6 separate regions of the Homo sapiens genome follow, and all the other regions are linked to region 4. Evidence: fine-mapped expression QTL. A gene starts in region 4. Each other region holds a variant in brackets. All regions are shown on one strand. Distances are between the middles of the regions. Region 1 overlaps RPTOR (regulatory associated protein of MTOR complex 1). Region 2 overlaps RPTOR (regulatory associated protein of MTOR complex 1). Region 3 overlaps RPTOR (regulatory associated protein of MTOR complex 1). Region 4 holds the start of RPTOR (regulatory associated protein of MTOR complex 1). Region 5 overlaps RPTOR (regulatory associated protein of MTOR complex 1). Region 6 overlaps RPTOR (regulatory associated protein of MTOR complex 1).

Evidence for each region.
Region 1: its variant is fine-mapped to the expression of RPTOR in whole blood (TOPMed, PIP above 0.99).
Region 2: its variant is fine-mapped to the expression of RPTOR in monocytes after LPS (Fairfax 2014, PIP 0.95).
Region 3: its variant is fine-mapped to the expression of RPTOR in whole blood (TOPMed, PIP 0.99).
Region 5: its variant is fine-mapped to the expression of RPTOR in whole blood (INTERVAL, PIP 0.97).
Region 6: its variant is fine-mapped to the expression of RPTOR in whole blood (TOPMed, PIP above 0.99).

Annotation. Positions count from the first base shown.
Region 1 is chr17:80,759,387-80,763,473 of GRCh38, reverse strand. All of the region lies in intron 6 of RPTOR (regulatory associated protein of MTOR complex 1), which reads right to left. Among named protein-coding and RNA genes, the nearest start is that of RPTOR, 220 kb to the right of the region's middle. RefSeq lists enhancers at 1,896-1,945, 1,241-2,440. The variant G/A (reference allele first, on the strand shown) is at 1,974.
Region 2 is chr17:80,897,466-80,901,552 of GRCh38, reverse strand. The region is part of intron 20 of RPTOR (regulatory associated protein of MTOR complex 1); the gene reads right to left. Among named protein-coding and RNA genes, the nearest start is that of CHMP6, 92 kb to the left of the region's middle. The variant C/A (reference allele first, on the strand shown) is at 1,880.
Region 3 is chr17:80,950,980-80,955,066 of GRCh38, reverse strand. The region is part of intron 28 of RPTOR (regulatory associated protein of MTOR complex 1); the gene reads right to left. Among named protein-coding and RNA genes, the nearest start is that of CHMP6, 39 kb to the left of the region's middle. The variant A/G (reference allele first, on the strand shown) is at 2,014.
Region 4 is chr17:80,542,843-80,546,929 of GRCh38, reverse strand. RPTOR (regulatory associated protein of MTOR complex 1) reads right to left here and starts at 2,092. Exons shown (of 34, transcript NM_020761.3): 1 at 1,139-2,092. The coding sequence starts at 1,300. RefSeq lists enhancers at 745-1,571, 1,499-1,598, 1,879-2,238, 1,572-2,398.
Region 5 is chr17:80,695,209-80,699,295 of GRCh38, reverse strand. The region is part of intron 3 of RPTOR (regulatory associated protein of MTOR complex 1); the gene reads right to left. Among named protein-coding and RNA genes, the nearest start is that of RPTOR, 150 kb to the right of the region's middle. RefSeq lists a silencer at 653-947 and an enhancer at 2,042-2,569. The variant C/A (reference allele first, on the strand shown) is at 2,029.
Region 6 is chr17:80,741,549-80,745,635 of GRCh38, reverse strand. The region is part of intron 5 of RPTOR (regulatory associated protein of MTOR complex 1); the gene reads right to left. Among named protein-coding and RNA genes, the nearest start is that of RPTOR, 200 kb to the right of the region's middle. RefSeq lists a silencer at 1,668-2,022. The variant G/A (reference allele first, on the strand shown) is at 2,319.

The DNA.
Region 1 (4,087 bases), 220 kb before region 4:
AGGTGCACACAGTCATCATCAGTATATACCTTCCTGCTTTCCTGTTCGTTTTACCACAATACAACATTTTTCTTTGCCCCTCTCAATAATTTATCTCAGCTTCTGCTTTAAGTCATATTGGGACTGGCCACCCCAGCTTTCTTTTAGCTCGTATTTCTCTTTTTCATCTTCTGATTTCCAACCTTTGAAATACATGTTCTTATTTTTTATTATTATTATTTTTTTTTAGAGACTGGGTCTTACCCTGTCACCCAGGCTGGAGTGCAGTGGCACAATCACAGCTCACTGCAGCCTTGAACTCCTGGGCTCAACTGATCCTCCTGCCTCAGCCTCCCGAGGAACTGAGACCACAGGCATAAGCCACCATGTCCAGCTAATTTTTAAATTTTTAGTAGAGACAGGGTCGTGCTGTTTTGCCCAGGCTTAAACGTTTTGCTTTAAATCTGTGTCTCATGGACAAGAGACTGCTGTATCATGATTTTAACCAACACAAGAATCATGGCCCTTTGAGAGGTGAATTCAATTCGTTTACAGTTACAACTTTATTTCAAAACATTTTAGCCATCGTATCTCACACTTTCTATTTACTAAGCCTGTCTTTTCTCCTTTTCTACGTTTTTTTTTAGAGAGAAGAAAATGTTATTTCCTAGATATTTAAACTTTGTCTCTGCCTCTCATGTTTCTCCCCTTCCTTCTAGCTCCATCCCTTTGGTGGGAACTCCTCAAACAAGCTTCTCAGCTTCCTGGTTTATTCTTGGCTCTATCCATAATGTTGCTTTTCAATCCATCTCTTCAATTATTTCACCAATTATATTTTTTATACTTAATGCTTCCAACTGGTCTTTCTTCCTGTTTCTTCTTCATATTTCCAATTGTCTTTTATCACTTTTATTTATTATTGGATTACTTCTCTTTTCACAAGGGCGGTAGGACAAACTCTTTCTTTCCACCCTCTTATTTTCCATCTTTCTGAGCCCCAGACACAGCACAGCAGGCCATGCCTATCAAGGGCAGTGGGAGGAGAGCCGAGTGCCCTCAGCCTTGCCTGCACCCTGGGGCCCTCGCCAGCTCCACTGTCTCCTCCGGCCTCACCCCTCACCCCAGCCCCCAGTGGGGACTCAGCCATCTCAAGGGACCAGCAAAGTCTCCGGCTGTGCTGCTGAGTGGGCTCCCTCCAGGATCATCAATCTCACTCTTTCCTGCAGCACCCGAGGACGGGGTTCAGCCGGGGAGTCAGCAGCCCGTGCCCCTCCATCTGCTTCAATTCCCTTTCTTACCGCATCCATCAGGTGGTTTTTACACGTCATCTTTTAAAACGGGAGCTCTATTACAATACATTATGATATTCATCTTAATTGAGTATATGTCAAGAGACTGGAACAGTGAGAGAACACTGTCTTGTTTGGGGAGAAAAAATATTTTCCTCTGGAAACGGCCTGGAAGCTGCCGCGGGGACTGTGTGAGATCCATGATACTGAGGCTCTACTTGGAAACGTCATAAAGCCGTTTCTCCAGACGCAAATTCCAAATTAAACTTGCCTACGACTAAGGTCTAAGATACAGAGTGGGATACTACAAAAGAGCATTTTATTCAATAATGTGTCCCGGTTACTTCACCCTCTGGGAGGACCAGTGAGCTCCTCTCCCTTCGCACATATGCAGGAAGACAAAGTCATCGGACTGTTGTTGAAAGGAAGCGGCAAAAGACCCGAGAGCACTGAACGGGCAGAAGAAAGTGTGTTCTCTGGCAAAGCAGATGTATTTTAGAAGACTCCTTGGAGAACACATGGTTAACTCTATCATCAAAACCACAAGAATTTATGTTTCTAAAGGTAATTCTGAATGATTCTTGGTTGAGTCATCAGGAAAAAATACGAAGCAAATGTCACAGCAAATGTCTGAAATGAGACAGGCACTGCAAACCACTTAGCCTGGCCAGACAGAGCCACGCTGAGCCTCCACCCAACCTGCGC[G/A]CCAGGAAACCCATGCATCTTCCGTCTCCTGCGGGCAATGCAGGAGCGAAACTTTCCACGCTGACAAATACACGTTAATGCTCTATCATTAACATTTATAGTCCTGGAAATCCTTCAACTTAATTGAAAGAAAGGAAGTAAGTTTTTTGACCTCTATTCAATCCAAAATAATGTTTATCATTTTCATTAATAGACAATACTAGTGCATGCAGCACAGTGCAATAGACATCAATCTGTTTTATAGCAAGTCCCACAGCAAATGAAGTCCCACTGGGTTATAATTTTCAGTAGTATACAAATAGACGCGTAATAAATCTAAAATGATATTATGCCACTCAATCAAAGAAGTAGAAAACAGCCAAGGGAAAAAATATATTTTGGATTCTTACAGTGTATTGATGTATATGGTGAGTAAGATAATCATTTATGTGGAAAGTAATGTCATTGCTCATTTTGGAATTATTGAAATCAGTTTCCAAAAATGAAAAAGACAGGCAAAAATGAAAAAAAATTAGAGAACAATGTCTTCCAACAAGTTCATCATCAAATAAGATTCATAAATACGCTTGCCACCAAGTACACATGTACACATTTTGTCCAAATGAAGCAAAGCTGTATGTTGTTTACCCAGCACACCGCATTCTGTAGCAGCTGTGCCAGCATAATGAGGGCAGCGTGCTTAGAAACCGTTTCTCTTATTTACATAGTAAAGGGAGGGAGGGAGGGAATCCACCTTCCCGAGCATCGCCCTTCTCCAGGTCACCTGCAGACCGGCAGACACGCACAGCCGTCATCTGCAGCCCAATCCTAGTTCCCTTTTCTGGAGCAGGAAGTGCCAAGCTATAGCTCCTGGGCCAAATCTGGCCAACTGCCTGTTTCCTTAAAGAAAGCTTGACTGAGGCTGGGTGCGGTGGCTCGTGCCTGTAATCTCAGCACTTTGGAAGGCTGAGGCGGGCGGATCACCTGAGGTCAGGAGTTTGATGCCAGCCTGGCCAACATGGTAAAATCTCATCTCTACTAAAAATACAAAAATTAGCCAGGCGTGGTGGTGGGCACCTGTAATCCCAGCTACTCGGGAGGCTGAGGCAGGAGAATCGCTTGAACCGAGGAGGTGGAGGTTGCAGTGAGCCGAGATCACGCCACTGCACTCCAGCCTGGGCAACAGTGAGACTCGGTCTCAAAAAAAAAAAAAAGAAAAAAGAAAAAAGAAAGCTCGACTGGAACACAGCCATGCTCATTTGTTTATATATTGCCTGTGGCTCTTTCGTGCTGCAACAGCAGACTTGGGACTGTGTGGCCCGAAAAGCCTAACCCAAGTGCGTCTGCCCCTTCACAGAACCAGGTCTGCCGACTCCCATCAGAGTGCCAGGCTGAACCTTCCCACCCGCATACTCCTGGCGCCTAAATCCCAAAGCCCTACGCTCCGGCTAAATAAAACATGGAACTTCAACATAGTGAAATATAAAATGATACTTACTAAGAGTCTCTAATGATCTAGGGCAGGGAACTCTAGTATAATGCGAAGGGTTAAGGATATGAAATCGTAAATTCTGTCCACTTACATCAGTGCAAAATGTACATGCACAGAAAAAAGACCAACAGGCAATACATCAAAAAGTGAACACTAGTTGTCCTTAGATGGTAAAATCTTGGATGATTTTTTTCTACTTTTAACTTTTTAGTAATTTTCTGAAAAGAATGTATCTTTCATTTTTAATTAGAAAAATTGACTTTTCAAAATGAAAAAATAAAACTAAAACCCTAAAAACATACGTAATTACTGTCTGACAAACTATCTCACTCTTCCATTAAAAAAAAAAACCCTGGTGGTTTTTAACTTAGCTCACACAAAACTACACATTTCACTTGATAATTCTTTAATGAATATAGTCCATTACCACTCACAGGCCATAGACACCTAGCAAAATGTCATGTTCAACCTAATTTCAGCACTTCAATATGGGAGAAAGCAGTTTATTGTAAAAGAGCCGCCACCTGAGACACCGCTCAATTGTTCCAGGCAGTGGTTATCTGATGACCACTGTCTGCCACTGTGGCATATTGATTTCAAAGTCCCTCTTATGGTAACTGTATCAGTTTGTTTTTCACTGCAC
Region 2 (4,087 bases), 350 kb before region 4:
CAGGTGGTGTGAGTGACACCTCACTGAATATGAATGAGGCTGGCTTTGCAGGGGCGACTTTGTTTTCTTTCCTTCCTAAACTCCAGCTCATTGTGAAACTCTTTCCTGTCAAATTTCCTAAGATTTGAATGATATACGAATAAAACTCAGTTTTCTCCAGTAAAAAAAAAAAAGTCAGGAATCACATTGTATAAGAAGGATGGTGGAATGGGGAGTCCAGCTCCTTCGAGAAGACAGAAAAGAAAGAACCGGCAGAGGAGAAAACTCATGGAGGCCAAGCCCCTGTGTCCGGGCCCCAGGCTGCTGTGTGCTTCCCGTCTGGGTGGCCCTCAAATGAAACTGCGATTCTTCGCCCTGTACTCCACCGAGACCAGTACCGAGGATAACAACGGCATTCACTCATCACAGACAAGAGCTAAGTTTCACACAGGAGTTGGGCGGGGCCTCCGCAGTCCCTCTTGCCTGTGGACAGCACCCAGGGCCTCAGGCATGGCACGCGCACAGCAAACAGCAGCCTCAGCAAGTTCAGCCACCTGGAAACTCCACAGCTGTGAACTTTCTGTAGCCTTCGCCAGCAGAAGGGGAGATGCCCATGTGGTATCCAAATGCCCAGGGGGAAAGGGAGGTGCTGTGGGCGTGGGGACCTGCAGACGGAAGCTCTCAATGGTGCCATGGTGACCCAGCGCCACACTGCCTGGCTTGAGCTTCCTGGATCAACAAAAGGTGCGGTTCTGCACACTTGCAGGCCAGGTGCAACTTTTTATTTTGATTCTTACTTGATGGCCAGATACGTGTGAGTGGAGGGACGAGAGTGAACCGAGAACCCCATGGAGCATGGGCCAGGTAGGGTGGCGGGGCCACCAGGCCCTTGGCAGACGGTCACCAGGTGAGCACCGAGGGGTGATGCTGCTGTCGCTTCCTGTGAAAGAAGAAGGCCAGTCGAGCACAGTGGCTCATGCCTGTAATCCCAGCACTTTGGGAGGCTGAGGCGCGCAGATCACCCGAGGTTGGAAGTTCGAGACCAGCCTGACCAACTTGGAGAAACTTTGTCTCTACTAAAAGTACAAAATTAGCCAGGTGTGGTGGCATGCGCCTGTAATCCCAGCTACTTGGGAGGCTGAGGCAGGAGAATTGCTTGAACCCGGGAGGCAGTGAGCAGAGATCGCGCCATTAAACCCTAGCTGGAGTGACAAGAGGAAAACTCCATCTCAGAAAAAAAAGGAAGGCCACAGTGAGCACACGGCCCCAGGAGGGCCACAGTGGAAGCAGGGAGACCCGGGAGAGAGCTGCGACCACCAGGCCAGAGCTGCTGGCTCAGGTGGCTGCGAGGCGGGGAGGAGACGGCCACAGATGCCCGGCTGAGAGAAGGATGTGTTGGGGCACAAAGAGGAGTCCCCGACTCCTGGCCAGGAGTCAACCTGAGTAAACGCCGGTCCCCTTGGCTGCAGAGGGAGGACGCCCACTTCTGCAGGGAGGGGTGGGAGATGCCCAGAGCCGATGGTACTGGCTTCGACACAGGTGGCATTGGGTTTGCCTGTTCTGTACTTTTGTGCCCCAGCATGCACAGTGGGGGCACTGTCAAAATATCTGTCCAATCCGTGGGAGAATCCCAAGCCCTCTGACTCACAGGAGTATCCTTGGAGGCCAGGGTGCGGGCAGGGTGTGCCCTACTGTCAGGCTCTCTGAGCTGAACTCAGCCTTGTTTTTCTATGGCCTGTGTATGGTTCTTATACTTTTTAAGTGGTTGAAAAAAAAATCAAAGGAACAATATTTTGTGATGTGAAGTTACGCAAAATTCAAACTTCAGTCCACACGGTTACATAGCAACATGGCCAAGTTCATTCACCTACACGCGGTCTCTGGCTACTTTTGCACCACA[C/A]TGGCAGTGTTGGGGAAGTGCCAAGGGGCAGTCCCACCTGCAAAGCTCTTTCACAGGAAGAGTTTGCAGACTCCTGCTCTAACCTACACGTGACGGAAGGGAGCTATCACCTTGACCTTGATGAGCGTGAACTGGGGCAGAGGTGGCACTAACCTGCTGGAGGCGCTAGAGAGCTATTCACAGGAGCTGTGGCCGGGGCCAGGGGAAATGTGTAATCAAAACAGAATACTATGAATTTACATTTTCTAGTACTTAAAAAAAAATTTTTAAATACCTTTTTTCATTGTAGATTTATAAGTAGAATTTCTGCAGACAGGTTTTAAAAGACTCTTGCAGGCTAGCCTGGAAACCTAACCACTATATGTAACATTAATTCTATTTAAAAAGTGTATTCCAGTTCAAAACAAACATCTTACAAGTGACGTTAGAATATATTTCATTGGTGACTTGGCAATACCTTGATTTATACTCGAATATACGGAGTCAACTCTGCGCTTTCTGGGCACTTGGCATATTTTAGTGGACAGCCAAATGCACAAAGCTGCAACGTTATTTCTCAATGAAAATTAACAAGTTGGCGTGTCTGGGCTAAGCTGGCGTGTCTGGGTTGTTGTGTAGTGAACCTTTCAGTTCTCCATACCCTGGAGGGCATGGTGCAAGCTCTGGACTCGTTCTATCCAGAGGTGCTCAAGGCAGCAGCTGGCCAAGGCTGGGAGCACACCCACAGGGTTGCCCGGTGGGAACTGCCTTGGCGGATGCCCTGCGTCTGTTTCGGGTCTTTGGGCTCCTGTCATGCGCTGCTGTCATTGTGGCTGGACCGCCATCCCCAGGAACCACAATGGAAGTAGAAAGAAAGCTTGAAGCTGAACACAAGTGAAAAGCCCATCATCAAAACTCACTAGACGGAGACGGCGGGGTGAGCAGGGGCGGGGTGAGCAGGGGTTGGGTGAGCAGGTGCGGGGGGAGCCGGGGCGGGGGGAGTCGGGGCGGCGGGGGGTGGGGGGAGCGGGGGGGGAGCGGGGGCAGGGGTTGGGGGAGCCGGGGCAGGGGTCCCGCAGACCTGAACACACACATTAGGAAGGAAGAAAAACTCAAAGTTAATGAGCTGTTTTTATTTTCTGTTTGAGAACTGTAACAGGACAAGAGAGTGAACCTAGAGAAAACAGTAGAAAGGAAACAAAATAAAGTACTGGAATAGAAAAATAAAGATAAAATAATGCAGTAAATCCACAAAGCCTAAAAGTTAGAACTTGAAGACACTAAAGAAATGAACAAACATCTTAGAGGATTAATCAGGAAAAAGGGGAAAAGGCAAATAAACAACAATAGGAATAAACGGGGACATATCTAAAGAGGCAGCAGATTGGGAATATCAGTAAAAGCAGCTAAAACAATAAAGAGACAGCAGAGATTAGAGACTCATGAGAATACTGCAGACAGCCTCAAGGGAAAGAATGAGAATACTTAGCTGAAATGAATAAAATCCTAGAAGAATAAAACTTTTTGAAGCTAGCTTATGAAGAAATAGAGAATGTAAATAATCCTATCAGCATTAAAGAAATGGAATACAGAATTCAAACCCACCCTCACAACACTACACTAGCCCAGACAGTTCAGGGGCAAATTCTACTCAGACACCGAAAGAACACATCATCTTTGTCTTATAAAAATTGCCCCCGAGGACAGGGAATGACGGCGCACTCCTGAGCCAGTTTTTTTGGACAGGGAATGAGGGTACACTCCTGAGCCAGTTTTGTTTTGTTTTGTTTTGTTTTTGTTTTGAGATGGAGTCTCACTCTATTACCCAGGCTGGAGTGCAGTGGCGTGATCTTGGCTCACTGCAACCTCTGCTGCCCGAATTCAAGCAACTCTCCTGCCTCAGCCTCCCAAGTAGCTGGGATTACAGGCACCTGTCACCATGCCCGGAGGAGCCAGTTTTACTAGGCAGGTACAGACTCAATGTCTAAACCAGCCAGGTCAGGACAAGAAAAGTCACAGCCCAACCCACTCGTGAATGCCAATGGGGAGCGCCCAAAGAAATAGCTGGTGAGCGTAAGGCAGCGATGTCAGGGGACATTACCACGCTGGGTGCCCCCAGAAATGCAAGGATATTTCACAAGAAATTCAATCATGTAATTCCCTACCCTAACAAACAGCCATGCACAGGGTCATTCTGAGATGCAGAAAATACATTCAAAGAAATTAATT
Region 3 (4,087 bases), 410 kb before region 4:
ATGAACACTGCATGTGCCTTTTATAGTCTTCAATTAGAGTTTATGCTTTGATCTGTGAAGAAAGTGCATTTGTTGGATTCATTCCTAGGTATCTTGCAGTTTTTATTCCCGTTGTCTATGATTTCTTTCTTTCTTTCTTTCTTTTTTTTTGAGATGTAGTCTCACACTTTTGCCCAGGCTGGAGTGCAGTGGTGTGATCTTGGCTCACTGCAACCTCCGCCTCCCAGGTTCAAGTGATTCTCCTGCCTCAGCCTCCTGAGTAACTGGGATTACAGGCACCTGCCACCATGTCCAGCTAATTTTTGTATTTTTAGTAGAGATGGGGTTTCACCATGTTGGTCAGGCTGGTCTTGAACTATTGACCTCAGGTGATCCATCTGCCTCGGCTTCTGGGATTACAGGCGTGAGCCACCACGCCTGGCCCATGATGTTTTATAATTACATTTTCTAGTTGTTAATTGCTGGCATACATACATTCTTTATTTTACTTTTGAAATGCAGTCCCAGGCCAGATGTGTTTACACCTGTGATCCCAGCACTTTGGGAGGCCGAGACAGAGGATTGCTTAAGCCCAGGAGTTCAAGACCAGCCTGGGCAACATAGCAAGACCTTGTCTTTACAAATAATAAAAGATTAGCCAATGTAGCCCGGGCACAGTGGCTCACGCCTGTAATCCCAGCACTTTGGGAGGCTGAGGCGGGTGGATCACCTGAGGTCAGGAGTTCGAGACCAGCCTGGCCAACATAGTGAAACACCGTCTCTACTAAAAATACACAAAATAGCTGGGTGTGGCAGTGGGTGCCTGTAATCCCAACTACTTGGGAGGCTGAGGCAGGAGAATTGCTTGAACCTGAGAGGTGGAGGTTGCAGTGAGCCAAGATCCGCCATTGTACGCCAGCCTGGGCAACAAGAGTGAAACTCCGTCTCAAAAGAAAAAAGATTAGCCGTTGCAGTGGTGTGCGCCTGTGGTCCAGCTAGTTGGGAGGCTGAGGTGGGATGACCGCTTGAGCCCAGGTGGTTGAGGCTGCAGTGAGAGCAAGACCCCATCTCAAAAACAAACACAAACAAACAAAAAAAGAAGTGTAGTCCCTCTACTGTGATACACCTGAACCCAGGCAGGAAGAAATGTCCCAGCAGGTCAGAAGCACGAGCGCCGTGGTGGATCACAGGCTTTCAACTTGCAGCCCTGCTCCTCCGCTGGGAGGCCTTGTGAGCACAGTGAGGGCCGGTGTGCAACCGGGCGGGAGGGCACATACTTCCCCGTTTCTGCCCAGAAGAGCCCAGCTCCTGCTGCAGCTGTGCAGCCAACAGAGCCTGAGGACACAGAACTGGAGCCCCCTCCCTCAGGATATGCTGTTACCTACATTAATCACAAAGAATGCTTGCTGCCCACCCGGACATGCTCTTGGGAAGTGGCGTCTGGGTGACCGAGGAGGACACCGCCCAGGGTTCCTGGTGCATCCCTTTTAGTGGCTCAGTGCTGTCCTGCCTGGAGGCACGGCCATCCGGAGGCTGCGCCAGGAGGCCCTGAGGCCCCACTCTGAGACCTGGGGCAGATCCACAAGCACAGAGGGCTTGGCTTGGCACAGACATTTTCTAAGTTTCTCTCTGTTTAAGTGAGGAACTTATGGGAGCTGGGTGTGGGGCATGGGCCTGTGGTCCCAGCTACTCAGGAGGCTGAGGTAGGAGGACTGCCTGAGCCCTGAGAGGTCGAGGCTGCAGTGAGCCGTGATGGTGCCACTGCATTCCAGCCTGGGTGACAGCAAGAACCTGTCTCAAAAATAGATAAATAAGAATCTATGGGAAGAAACTGCTTTAATGGGCAGCAGGCCGCCTTCTGGAGTGGTGAGAATCTTCTGGAACTAGATAAAGGTGGTGGCTGCACAACTTGGAAAATGCACAGGCTGGGTGCAGTGGCTCACACCTGTAATCCCAGCACTGTGGGAGGCCAAGGTGGGAGGATCACCTGAGGTCAGGAGATCGAGACCATCCTGGCCAACATGGTGAAACCCC[A/G]TCTCTACTAAAAATACAAAAATTAGCCAGGCGTGGTGGTGCGACCCTCTAGTCCCAGCTACTTGGGAGGCTGAGGCAGGAGAATCGCTTGAACCTGGGAGGCGGAGGTTGCAGTGAGCCAAGATCACGCCACTGCACTCCAGCCTGGGCAACAGAGCGAGACTCCACCTCAAAAAAAAAAAAAAAAAAAAAAAAAAAGAAGAAAAGAAAAAGAGAAGGGAGAGATGCATGGGTCTGGGCTCTGCACTTCTAGACTGCATGGTCACTTGGGGGGCAGCAGCCACGTCCCAGGCACGATCCTCCTGGTGACTCTGCCAGGAAGCGACACCTTGGGTCGGGAAGAACAGAGAGGTGCCCTGGGAACAGCAGTGACACGAGCAGAACAAACAGAGGGAAAAGGTGAGAACGAGCACATGGAGAACATTCAAGATGCCAGAAAACAAGAAACAGCCTCCAAAGCACCAGTCTCAGGGGTGACGTGGGGAGCCTGGCTTGCGTGTGCCTGAGCTGGGTGTGCCCAACTGGGCAAGCGGGTCCGGGAGAGGCGAGTGGGGGCTGGGGCAAGCGGAGGTCACGCCTTGGGCCTCCTGCAGGCTCCCTGCAGCAGAAGCTGGCGGAGGGCCTGAGCTCCTCAGTTCCAGGGGAGGATGAAACCTCTGCGGCTCCACGGATCCCCGTGGTGACCAGATCAGATGTGCTGTGGGCCCTCCGTGAGCACCTGACGAAGATGGAGAGCACCACTTCTGTCTTCAGCCCTTGGCCGTTCATGTGAGTTGTTTATTCCCTTAAATGTAATACCGCGGAGGGAAACCAACCTGCTAATACCATTAATCTATCAAATGCCAACACTGGGTCCTGGTGACTGTGACTTTCAAGAAGAGTGGTGGCTGTGCTGTGGTCAGCATTCACGGCTCTGGATTTAGGCAGTGTGACTCCAATCGATGACAAATAATTACCCTCAGGCCCGTGAGACATCCCCCAGCAACCTGCTGGAACTCGGGCCCTCCCTTGACACCGTGACCTCATTGGGTGAGTGCCGAGCCGGCGTCCCAGGAACGCCCACCTGTCCCTGCACGTGTGTCTGTGTCCTGGTGGCCTCTTCTTGTAAGGACACGAGGCACATTGGGTTAGGGCCACCCTGGTGACTTGGTTTGACCTTAATCACCTCTGTAAAGGCCCTGTCTCCAGCACATAGGCCGACGTACCCGGGTAGGACAGTGACATGCCGGCATGGGGGACATGGCACAGCCCGACCCTGGGCCTCAGGTGTCCATCTGAACCAGAGGCTCTGGGCAGCTGTCCCTCGGCCCGAGCGTCCTGCCATGGAGGGGTATAGTCAGGTGAACCCTAAGTCCTTTTTCAGTTCAGATTCTGTGATGCCGAGTGAACTGGTTTGAACCAGTCCTGGACACATAGCAAAGCCGCAGCAGCAGTGACACACCCGCCTGCTGCCCACACCCAGGTTTCCCATGTCCTGTGCAACCTGAGGGAGCCCAGAGCTGTGCCTGGTGCCCCAGCCCACAGCTGGCACAGCCTTCGGGGACTGGGGCCTGGAGCTCTTACGTCTGGCGAGACGCCTCTGCTGCCTTCCCCCGCAGTGAGAGCCTCGTTCTCTGACCCCGAGACCCCTGAAGTGCAGCACAGGCTCCCACTCTGAAGGAAGCACTGGAGGGTCTGGGCCGAGAAGGCCGCTTTTCTCGTCAGTGCTGCTTCCTGATATGTAAGCTGGGCACTGCCATCCTGACCCGGAGAGACTGAGAGCCCGTGGGGCAGCACAGGCCACCAAGTCTTGTTTCCTGCAGCGTGGCCCGGTGTGGATGTGTGGATGCTTCTGGGGGTGTCAGGGACCCCAGGCCCAGCCGGGTGTGGACGTGTGGATGCTTCTGGGGGGTCTCAGGGACCCTGGGGCCAGCCGGGTGTGGACGTGTGGATGCTTCCGGGGGGTCTCAGGGACCCCGGGGCCAGCTGGGCATGGACATGTGGATGCTTCTAGGGGGGTCTCATGGACCCCGGGGCTAGCCACGGGTGTGTCCTTCCAGCACTGCATTTCCGGCAGGTCCGAGCCTTGGACAGG
Region 4 (4,087 bases):
GCCCAGCTAATTTTTGTATTTTTAGTACAGACAGGGTTTCACCATGTTGGCCGGGCTGGTCTCAAACTCCTGACCTCAGGTGATCCGCCTGCCTTTGGGAGGCCTGCCTTGGCCTCCCAAAGTGCTGAGATTACAGGCGTGAGCCACCGCGCCCAGCCCAGAAGTGTAATCTTATATATGTTCAACATCATATACTAAAAAACAATAATATTCCATAAACATATACATAAGCCTAGAGAAAATCAAACATTGTAACACCAACTTCCTCTTTTATACCACTGAAATGTGCAAATAAAAGCAGCCTGGAGGGAGAAAATAACTTACAAAAAGACAAATTATAAGTGTGCATAGAGGAGAAGCAGTACTACCCTTTTGCTTTTGAGGCCAGGAAATAGATGGGTGTTTTATGAAGGACAAATCCAACAAAATTCGGCTGTTTTCTTTCCTACCAGCTGCTTGTGAGTCACTCTCCACACTCCAAACACCATGCGGACACCCTAAAACCTGCACCCAAGTCTCGACGCCTCATACCCTAACTCACGATTAAAGAAATCCTGTTTCCAAGTTACAGCAACAGGACACTACATAAAAGGAGGAAAATCTAGCTTCAAGAGAAATTGTTTAGAAGACTAGAATGAAGTTCAGTGTAACTTTATAATAACTTTGCACTAATTTGTTACTAGTTGAACATTTTCCAGTAATCTCATTTCCTAGCATAGTATATCAGACTTCTGCACTTCACCCAGCTTGGATATTTTAAAAAGTAGACTAATCATGTGGGTATAAAGATTATATCGCACGTTGTCCTTCCTCTAAGTGTTTACAGAACTAAGTAGTATGCCAAAGAGCATGTAAATACTCGCAATGCTCTATTTTCAAATTTGCTTAACTTTTATTATCTGAATTAGAACTTAGTTGGAATTGAATTAACACTACCCAGTGAATAATGACTAACCAAAACAGCATTTTCCATTTTCAACCAAAAACTGCAGTCTGAAATGGCTTTTGCTTTCTAGTTGACTTACAACGTGTGGCTAGGGGGAAATGTCGGCGCTTTCCCAAGGACACTTTTCGGGCTGTAAACTTTCTTTGTTGGGGAAACTACCAAGTTCAAGGGGTGCCTTCAGAATCCACTTACCCGATCCTTCATCCTCCAGCTCTGAGCTAAGGATTTGGAGCCTTCAATTTTCTCACAGTGCCTCTTTTTCATAAAAGCCAAAGGTAGGTTCCAGTCTGTAAGATCAGCCTCATCTTCCTCCCCCAGGCCCAGAAGAGGCGATTGCAGCATTTCGGACTCCATCAGTGGGGGAGGGGGTGGGGGAGTCCTTGGCAGCAAGCGCTCGAGAACCTCCAGCCTTAAAAACTAGCGTGTACCAGAATTGGTGAAATAAGAAACAAAAACGGGAAATCGAAAACCAAATGGATAAAGAGTGCGGAGACCCTTACTCAGGCAAAAGTCTGAGATCCTTATCTCTAACTCTGAGCGGGAAGTGGGGAGGTGGGGGCCGCTAGGAAATGGGGCAGCCCAAGAAGCTCCGCAGACACACACCACCCCAGGTCCCAAGCCACTGGCTGCTCCTGAGGCTGTACGTTTCCAGAGGGGCTGCGAGGGGAGCTGCCAAAAGCGTAAGAGACTTCAGGCCTCACGATGACCCTGCTCTCGGCCTCCACCGCCTCAGCAGTTCCGAAGACAGGCAGGCCGCTCTTGGTGCCGGTTCGCCCACTGGGCCGACTGGGCTGAGGTCTCCGGCCAAGGGATCGGGTTCAAAGGGCCCTGGGTCTCCTCCAGCCACTCTCAGCCCTGCGGGTCCCGCACTCGTCTGAGCTGCTGCAACCAGAGCCACGACCGGCCCATCGTGCTCGCCTGCACCCGGTTCCTCAACCTCAGGTCCGCGCGGCCTGGCTGGTCCTGGCCTTCAGCCCCGAGGCTCTCTCCTGCCTGAGAACGAGTCCTGAGAAACGGGCGACACGGAACCACGGAGGAAAGGGACAATGTGGGCTTATTGGGTCATGGGAGCTTTGCCCTCTGGTTTGGAGCTACAGTGAAACTCATCTCATCAGCCCATCAAGGAGGACGCCATATTGCCAGGACCCAGAATGCACCGCGGCCTACGGCGTGGCCGACAGACCAAACCTCCTCAGAGCGGTCTCTCCCCGCCACCCAGCATGCAGCGAAGGAGAAAGAGTCCCCGACCCCGTTACCTCGGTTACCATAATTCCGTTTTCCCCAGTTAATCGCCATTTGTTCAGTAGAGGCGTGTTATTAAAGTCAATCCTACAAATGAAACTGTCGGTTTAATTTATTTTTTCAAAAACATTGTCATTATAAATGAAGTTACATGCTCCTGAAATTAAAGGAATCAACCGCCTTGTTTCTTCCAGATTTTGAAAAAGCGGCAAAAGCTTCACTGATAATATTAGAAAATATTAAAAAGCACTGATAATATTAGAAAATATAGTACTTTTTTTTTTGGAGTGTAGTGTCCTCCACAGTGTCAATCAGATTTTCTCTTTAATTTTTTCATAGAGAACCAAGTGAAAGGCCGGGCGCCGTGGCTCACGCCTGTAATCCCAGCACTTTGGGAGGCCGAAGCGGGCAGATCACGAGGTCAAGAGATCGAGACCAGCCTGGCCAACATGGTGAAACCCCGTCCCTACTAAAAATACACAAATTAGCTGGGCGTGGTGGTGCGCGCCTGTAATCCCAGCTACTCAGGAGGCTGAGGCAGGAGAATTGCTTGAACCCGGGAGGCGGAGGTTGCAGTGGGCCAAGATCGTGCCACTGCACTCCAGCCTGGGAGACAGAGCAAGACTCTTCAGATGAAGAAGGGTCTGAAGCAACAGAAGAAGAGTCTGGAGCAAGATTCGATGAAAAAAAATTTCATCTAATACAATTTTTTGTTTAATCTGTTTCGTTTTCTGAGCAGTTTATCCTTTTTAAATTTTTTTCCCACTTCTTGGTAGCAGTAGTTTATTCTTATTTTGATATAGCTTCACGTGCAGACATCTAAAACTACATGTCTGTGCGTGGAGGCAAGCCTCTTGTGTGACTCTCTTTTTCAATTCAGGAAATTTGGCTCATTTACAATGTATAGAGAACTGTGTAAGGTGGACTATAAAACCAAATGTAGGCAGGGCACCGTGGCTCACGCCTATAATCCTAGCCCTTTGGGAAGCCGAGGAGGGTGGATCACGAGTTCAGGAGTTCGAGACCAGCCTGGCCAACATGGTGAAACGCCGTCTCTAATAAAAATACAAAAATTAGCTGGGCGTGGTGGCGTGCGTCTGTAGTCTCAGCTGCTCGGGAGGCTGAGGCAGGAGAAGAGCTGGAACCTGGGAGGCAGAGGTTGCAGTGAGCCGAGATTACACCACTGCATTCCAGCCTGGGTGACAGAGTGAGATTCCATCTCAAAAATAAATAAATAAATAAATAAATAAATAAGAATAAAACGAGGCCAGGCGTGGTGGTGCACGCCTGTAATCCCAGCACTTTGGGAGGCTGAGGTGGGTGGATCATGAGGTCAGGAGTTCAAGACCATCCTGGCCAAGATGGTCTTGATCTCTCAGGATGGTTTTCCGGGGCTTAGACACATGTGGCCATCCATATCAAAATCTTGATGGCATTTGTGTTCCTTTCAAAATGAGAATGAAGAATACAATCCCAGACCTTTCTCACCCAGCACAAAGCAAGCCTTTAATAAAGGCTACAGGATTAAATCATTGTCATTCCGCACATTCGTTTGGTTATTACACCCCATGGAGCCAATTCTCCTATTGAAACTCAGGGCACCCTCTCTGTTGGCAGAGACTATCCTCACAGTTACCAGCAGAGGCTTCAGGGATGCAGGGTCTTAGGAAGACCCCGTTCTCATCTGAAGGCAACAAAATCACTCCTGTCCTCTGCCTTGTCACCTTGCTCCCCACCTCCGGTGGCTGTAGACAGCTGCATTCCAGCAGCTCTTGCAGGAAGTCACAGTTACAGAAAAGCAGCAACGCTAAACCCATTCATCCCTAACTAGCTCTGTGACCTGGGAAAGCCCACTGAATCTGTGTGAGACTCAGTTTCCTCACCTATAACGTGTGTGAC
Region 5 (4,087 bases), 150 kb before region 4:
GGACTCTACCTGCTGATTTACTCATCAGCCTTCACAGTTGACATTAAATAAATATTTGTGCACATACAAATGATGAATAAATACTTCCTATTGGAGTTTACACAGCCCGATGAGCTTCTCCAGAGAAAGCTGTTTTATCAAGAGCTTGGGGTCTCTATTTTTATTTTGAGGGCATTTTAAACAATTCCATTTTGATGGGTTGGAGTACAGCAGTGAAGCAAGGCTTTTGCTCCAACACCCACTTTCCTTAGCAGACAATCTAACTGCCCAGACAAAGGGATCTGCTGCTCCATGCACATAAGCTCGAGGCAGATGCTGGGGGAATCACGGGCGCCTGAACATCCAGGAAGCACCCAGGGTAACCTAGCAATCAGACACAAGCTGGCGCTTCCTGGCCAGCAGGCTCGCCTGGGTTTCCCCAGGAATTGGATGGGCACTACCCCCTGAAGAGCTGCACCACTAGTCAGGTGAGGGCCGGGACAGCCTTCCATGAGCAAGACAGAAGGAAAAGGACTGACTTGGTGACTGGCAGAACAGGCTTGTCTTTCACGGATTATACCTGCATGAATGGTAATAAAAGACATTTCCTTTGTTCCAGATAAGGCTATGGAGAAGCAGCGGCACATTTGTCTATAGAAATCTTTCCAAACATAAAGATTAAGGAGAAAAGAACAAAAGGGAGGATGTTAAACGGTGACGAGGCTGAGGAGGTTGACCAGCTGCCGGCCTAGGATGGAAGGTGCCCCCACGTAACTCCAGCTCTTTCCACTTCCCGCTTTGTTTCCTTTGGCTGGAGGACAATGTGGATCAATGGCTGGAATGGCCCCCGGGGAGCAGGCCATGACCACATGCTGGTGACAACGGTGCAGAAACCTCTGCAAACGAGGAGCTGGTGTCTTTCTTTGCTCCGTCCCGTCACTTTTCACGCTATCCTCCACGTGGTTGCTGTACCTAGATGGCTCCCACAGGAGTCAGTGAGGCCTGGGTGGGGGTGGGGCGGCAGCCCCTCTGCATGGGGCCCAGTGCCTGGTGCGCCCGCACTGGCCTCACGTGGCTCCCCTGCTCACTCGGCCTACCTGGCCTGTCACCTCTGCCTCTGGCCCATCCTCCTCTGTGGACCCTCAGTCGCCTCCGTTCCTCACCCTCCTACTTTCACAACACCGTTTCCCCATAGGGCACCTTCAAGAGAAATCTGGTCAAATTCCCCACCTTGCCCCGCACCCACCCGTCTGGGATCCTTGTCTACTCGCTGGCCCCACCAAATCAGCCAGCAGAAACTCAACCACCAAACTCTGCCAGCAGAAACCTCACCACTACCCTCAGCTCCTGCTCCTGCCATCTCCCTGGTGCCCAGTGGGTCACAGGAATGTGTCCCTCTGACTTCGCTGTACCACCTCTGCCTTCATGGGAGTCAAACACCCCAACCACCTTCAGGCCTCCAAAATGACCCCTCTCCAAGTCCCCCCATTCTGTCAGAGCCTTCCTCCTTAACGCACAGCAGTCAGGCCACCGGCCCCTGAGACAAACCCTCTGTGGGTGGGTCAACAGGCTCCCTGCCCAGCACCACCTGCGAGCCCTCTGCTCAGCCCAGTGTCCTCACCACGTTCCCACCGTGGCTAATCTCTCATGACTCCATGCCTCTGCACAAGGTGGCTCCTTGGCCCAGACGTTCCCAAGTCCCTGACGTGGCTGTGCACGGTGCCACCTGCACCTATCACGCCGCCACCTGCACCTATCACGCCGCCCTCCTCCTCCCTTACAAGGTCCTCACCAGCTCCCTGGGGCTCACAAGGTGCTTCTGATACCGATGGGAGGTAGTCAAATGCCTAGGCAGACAGGGGCAGGTCCCTGGTGAAACCTACCTCCAAGCCAAATAACAGCCTGAAGGCTGAAAGACCAGACGGCAGGTCCTGGATAAAACCCAAGACCCAGAGCAAAACTCCTATTCCCGTTTGCCCACCCTTTCCCAATTGATTCTTTCTGAATAATGCCTTTTAACCAATCAAATGTTGCCTTTTCCAATACTAC[C/A]TACAGCCTGCCCCTCCCCTATTCTGAGCCCACAAAAGCCCCAGACTAAGACACACTGGAGGGATTTTCCCACCTTCGGGTGGGGGGACCGCCCCCATGTCCCCTCTCTGCAGAAAGCTCTTTCATCACTCAGTAAAACCCCTCACCTTGCTCACTCTCTGACTGTAGGCACATCTGCATTCTGCTTGGATGCTGGACAAGAGCTCAGGACCCACCAAGTGCTGGTACCAGAAAGACTGTCACACTAGCCCTTTGCTCCTGCTGGCAGAGGGCAGCCACCCTACGTGATGGGGCCAGGGGGCGACGGAGCTGCTAACATGCCACCATCTGTTGGACTGTGGATGGAAGAACTAAAAGAGCTAATGAGCACACTAACACCCACTCTGGGGCTTCAGGGTCATGGGCACCCTTGCCTGGGTGCCACCGTGTTCCCCTCAAGGTGACACACCTGGTCTGGCTGTGGGCCCCGCATGGAGTTTGCTCCTGTATTGGTGCTTGGGGGGGCTGGCTGGATCCCACACTCGCTCACTCACGTGCTCCCGCCTGCAAACGGCTGAGTTCGGCGGCATCCCTGCTGCAAGTCCAGCAAAGAGGCCAAGAGAAAATTCCTGTGTCCCTTCTGCGCCCACTGCAGAGATCCAGGCTCTGACGCACCAGCCGGCCTTGCCCCGGGAGGCCATGGCCACTAAGAAGAGGCCTCTCAGGTCCCAGTCAGCCCCTTGCTTCTGGGCACAGAGTCGTCACCCAAGAAAAGGCTGTGGAATGAATCTACATGGGAATTCTGCTTACTTGGATTAATATGCTGCTCGCTTTGAACTAACGAAAGCCGAGCTCCACTATCCCAGTATCATTTTTTTTGTCCCAACATGGACCTCAGAGTTAAATTTTTATTGGGAAAGATGTAGGGCAAGAGGCTGTGCAGTACAAATTCTGTCCCACTCTATTTGCATATTTTATTTGCTCTTTAAATGTTTTCAATATTTCATAATAAGATGCCATTCTGTGTAATCTTTTCCTGATGCTATCACTGTAAGGCTGGTTTCCTCCCCCTCCAAAATCTCTTAATGAAAAAACAAAACAAAACAAAGCTGCCACTTATCTTGTCTGTTTAAATGGAACCCTGAGTCTTTGAAATTTAAAAGGGAGAGGAAGCCTGAACTCCAGGCTGCAGCCCTGCCGGAAAAATCTATCCTGCCCTACAGGGACTCACAAGAACAAGGCCAGTCGCCAGATGCCACCTTGGCTCTGAGAGTCGCACACTCAGAAACAGCAGAGACACGGCCAATTTCCATCTAAGATGTAACCAGCATCCTCTGCAAACTCTTCACAGAAAGATGGGTCCGGGGTAGATCAAAGCCAGCTCACGCAGGTAGAAAAGGCAGCCACGAGGCCATGCAGGGCAAAAGTGGTCTGCGGCCCTTGGCCCACCAGCTCCAGCCACCCCCAACGCTCCTCCCTGGCCTTGGTGCCTCTGCATCCTGAGCTCCTGTCACTCTGTAAAGATGGGCCTCAAGCGACTTGTTTTTCAGAAATAAAAGAGGTGACCTTTGGAAGAAGTCTATAAATACAAAAGTCACACCACTCCACTGGCTCCTTCTCACGATTATTCTGGAATTCGGGGTAACGTGCAGAGACTAGGAAGCCCAAGGTCATCCTGCTTTGTTTCCTGTAAAACAGCTGCTTGGGAAGACGCTGGCTCTGGGTGGCTGGCAGGCATCCCCAGGCACTCTCGCAGTGGAGGTGAGCTGGAGAGAAGTGACGCAGGTGAGCCCACACGTGAGCCACCCACCTGCCCCTCTGTAACAGAGGCCACTGTTACAGGGAGAGAGCACAGGTCCCGCCCAGAGATGGGAAACTTAAGTCTCAGCCCCAAATCAATGATTCACCAGCCATTCGACCTGGCAACGTCATGAACAAAACCAAACCTCAATTTTCTCCTCCACAAACAACTAAACTAACGCGGGCCCTGCCCGGGTGGCTGATGTGAAAGTCTCGTGTGGAAATGCTCGGGCCCCCGTGGCAGACAATGTGGGGGTGAGTGACCCGCACAGCACGGGTC
Region 6 (4,087 bases), 200 kb before region 4:
GCTAAAGGAGTCAGTGTATTACTTATCCAACTCTATTAATAGTCAAAGATATTAATGTGGCATCTATCATGTGACACACAGTGTACCAAAAAGAGCAGATGCAAAGCAGAAATCATATTTTTAATATATTGTTGATAGAATTATGTATATCAAATATTAGATTTTAATTTAAAAACCAAGTTGCGCCTATTGCTGGCAACTATCACATCCAGGCTGAGAGAGCAGAAGGAGCTCCTTCTGGTGGATGGAGACTTCCAAGGACGTGCAGAAGCCTCCAGCCTGCCCTTCCAAGGCTAGCTAAAGCCCCTTCATAACAACGGTTTGTCACAGTTACCCCGAGTTCCCCCAAATGAAGCATTCATTATTTCAAAGCCATTTAGCTATTAGCAACCCACAGCTTCTAAATGCTCTGTGATCATTCTACAACTCTGTGAAGATGGTCAATTAGAAATTACACTAATTTCTCTCACAGTCAACTAAAGGAGATACTGGAAATTCTTCACCCTCTATATCAAAAAGTGATTTTTAGGGGGAAGGCTTAGCTGACCAGTGGCAGGAGGGGGAGAAAGAGCTAACTCATGGCATATTCTTTGGGCAGTCTCTAGCAGAGGTGTCTAGTAGCCAGGACTGTGCTAGTAACCAAGGCTGTGCTAGTAACCAGGGCTCTGCTAGAAGCCAGGGCTCTGCTAGTAACCAGGGCTCTGCTAGTAACCAGGGCTGTGCTAGTAGCCAGGACAGTGCTAGTAGCCAGGGCTGTGCTCGTAACCAGGACAGTGCTAGTAGCCAGGACAGTGCTAGTAACCAGGGCTGTGCTAGTAGCCAGGACAGTGCTAGTAGCCAGGGCTGTGCTAGTAGCCAGGACAGTGCTAGTAGCCAGGACAGTGCTAGTAGCCAGGACAGTGCTAGTAGCCAGGACAGTGCTAGTAGCCAGGACAGTGCTAGTAGCCAGGGCTGTGCTAGTAGCCAGGGCTGTGCTCGTAACCAGGAGAGTGCTAGTAGCCAGGGCTCTGCTAGTAACCAGGGCTGTGCTAGTAACCAGGACAGTGCTAGTAGCCAGGGCTGTGCTCGTAACCAGGACAGTGCTAGTAGCCAGGGCTGTGCTAGTAGCCAGGGCTGTGCTCGTAACCAGGACAGTGCTAGTAGCCAGGGCTGTGCTAGTAACCAGGGCTGTGCTAGTAACCAGGACAGTGCTAGTAGCCAGGGCTGTGCTAGTAGCCAGGGCTGTGCTAGTAGCCAGGACAGTGCTCGTAACCAGGGCTGTGCTCGTAACCAGGACAGTGCTAGTAGCCAGGGCTGTGCTAGTAGCCAGGGCTGTGCTAGTAACCAGGGCTGTGCTAGTAGCCAGGACAGTGCTAGTAACCAGGGCTGTGCTAGTAGCCAGGACAGTGCTAGTAACCAGGGCTGTGCTAGTAGCCAGGACAGTGCTAGTAACCAGGGCTGTGCTAGTAGCCAGGATAGTGCTAGTAACCAGGGCTGTGCTAGTAACCAGGATAGTGCTAGTAGCCAGGGCTGTGCTAGTAACCAGGGCTGTGCTAGTAACCAGGGCTGTGCTCGTAACCAGGACAGTGCTAGTAGCCAGGGCTGTGCTAGTAACCAGGGCTGTGCTAGTAACCAGGGCTGTGCTAGTAACCAGGGCTGTGCTCATAACCAGGACAGTGCTAGTAGCCAGGGCTGTGCTAGTAGCCAGGGCTGTGCTAGTAACCAGGGCTCTGCTAGTAACCAGGGCTGTGCTCGTAACCAGGACAGTGCTAGTAGCCAGGGCTGTGCTAGTAGCCAGGGCTCTGCTAGTAACCAGGGCTGTGCTAGTAGCCAGGGCTCTGCTAGTAGCCAGGGCTGTGCTAGTAGCCAGGGCTCTGCTAGTAACCAGGAGAGTGCTAGTAGCCAGGGCTCTGCTAGTAGCCAGGGCTGTGCTCGTAGCCAGGACAGTGCTAGTAGCCAGGGCTGTGCTAGTAGCCAGGGCTGTGCCCTCAACCCTTGCTGCCGAGGGCAAAGTAGCAAAGTGAGTTAATTAAAGTAGCATCTGGGTTTAAATTACTACTTGGCTTTATGATTTGTTCCATGATTTCTAGCCCACGCAGGCACCTTTCCCAAGAACTGATGACCTCTTTCAGACCTGGCAATGCCCAGCACTCCGAACGCGCTGCTGGAGCTCCCCACACAAGTGGGTCACGTGTTCTCCTGCCTCTGTCACTGACATGCCTTTCCTACCTGTCTTTATGCTGGCAACTTCTTACGTTCTACGGCTCAGGTTAGACATCTCCTTCAGGCCTCCCTCGGTCCTTGTGGCTTCTTCTCTGCACGGCGGAACCTGCAAGAGC[G/A]CCCTGCCCCCTGCCAGATGGGTGCCTTCACCCCCGGAAACATTTTGTTCATCATCAGCTGCTGTGTTTCTGCTTACTTCTCTAATGAACTGAGTCATAAGAGAGAGAGCCTTGGCTAATTTCAGGAGAGAGACGGGAAGACAGGAAGGGTTCCAATTCTGTTAACAAGGAGGAGAGGGAAAGCTGGAGACACTAGTAAGAGCTGAGCATAAAGTGGGTGTTATTCCCAGTGCGCAAAGACAATCTAATAAGGCTGGATCCAGACACGTGTACTCACTCCACCTTCTAAAACAAACACCAATTAGAAAGGAACATATGTGAAGCACTAGGAATGTGCTGCGGCATGGCACCAAAAGCTGTGTGTGTGTGTGTGTATAGGTGAGTGTGTAGATGTGCATGTATGAGCATGTACCTGTGTGTATGTGTGCATGTGTGTATATGTCCATGTTTCTGTGTGCACATGTATATGTGTATGTTTATGTATGTATAGGTGGGCATGTATATATGTGTATATAGGCGTGTGCATGTGTGTATGCACATGTATACATGTGCGTGTCTATATGTGCATGTATGTGTGCGCACATGCATGTGTATGTGTGTGGGTGTGTCTATGGTGTCTATGTGTGTCTCTGTGTATATGGCTGTATGTGTATGTGCATGTGTTTATATGTGTGGACATGTATGTATATGTGCGTGTGTATGTGTGTGGCATCTATGCATGTCTATATGCATATATGTCTATGTGTGTGCATACATGTATGTAAATGTAGGTGAGTATACGTGTACATGTGTGCATGTGTTGTCTATGTGCATGTGTATGTGTACATGTCTGTATGTGCATGTGCTTATATACGTGTGTGTGTGTGTGTACCTGCTCCTCCTAAACTTGATTGTGCTGTGCGTCTGCATCCTTCCTCCAAACCTGGCCTCTGCATGCATGTGCTGCCATCCCCTTCTGGAATGACCACCGTCGATGCTCCGCCTCCAGCCAGCTCCTCCCCTTGTGTAATGGATCCTGTTCCCTTCACACCTACTTAAGGGCCGCCCTCAGGAGCTCTCTCTCCCTCCCACACATCAGCTTTTCCCTCTCTGCCAGGTTACTCCCATTAGCACAAACACATGCTCTCATAATGTCCATGTGACGAAAACAAACCTCCCTCAGGAGCTTCCACATGGCATCGCCCACCCTCTCTTGAACAGTTTAGAATCACATGAGAGCCCACCACCCTGCGTTGACACTGCTTTTGTTAAATCCAGCAATGGCCCCGTGTGCACAAATACAACGGTCCATCCTCAGTCCTCCTCGTGTGAGCCGCTCAACAGCACAGCAATCAGCTAACTGTCCCTACTTCTAGAAGGCTTTCCTGAGGCTTTTCCTGACTTCCTGATGCCACGAGTGCCTGGTTACCCTCCAACTGCCTGGCTACTTCTCTGGTCTGGTCTGTCAGTGCCTCTCCTTTTCCCAGACTCTACACACACCACCGAACGCAGGCCTCGACTGGCCTCTCCTCTCCAGCCACACGAACCACATGGGGGCTCGTCACCATCCCGTGGCTTCAGCCATTGTCTGTTCTAGGATGACACCGACCACCTTCTGATGCATTCTCAGGAAAGTAGAGCCAGGGTTTGTCCACTTGCGTGCTGCTGTATGCCCTGTCACCCTTCCTAATTTACAGGAGATGCTGAACAAACATCTCTGATAGGACCCCACACCCCACATTGCCTGAGCAGAGCTCTTGTGTCCTGCACCCCAAGACCTCCATCCACCC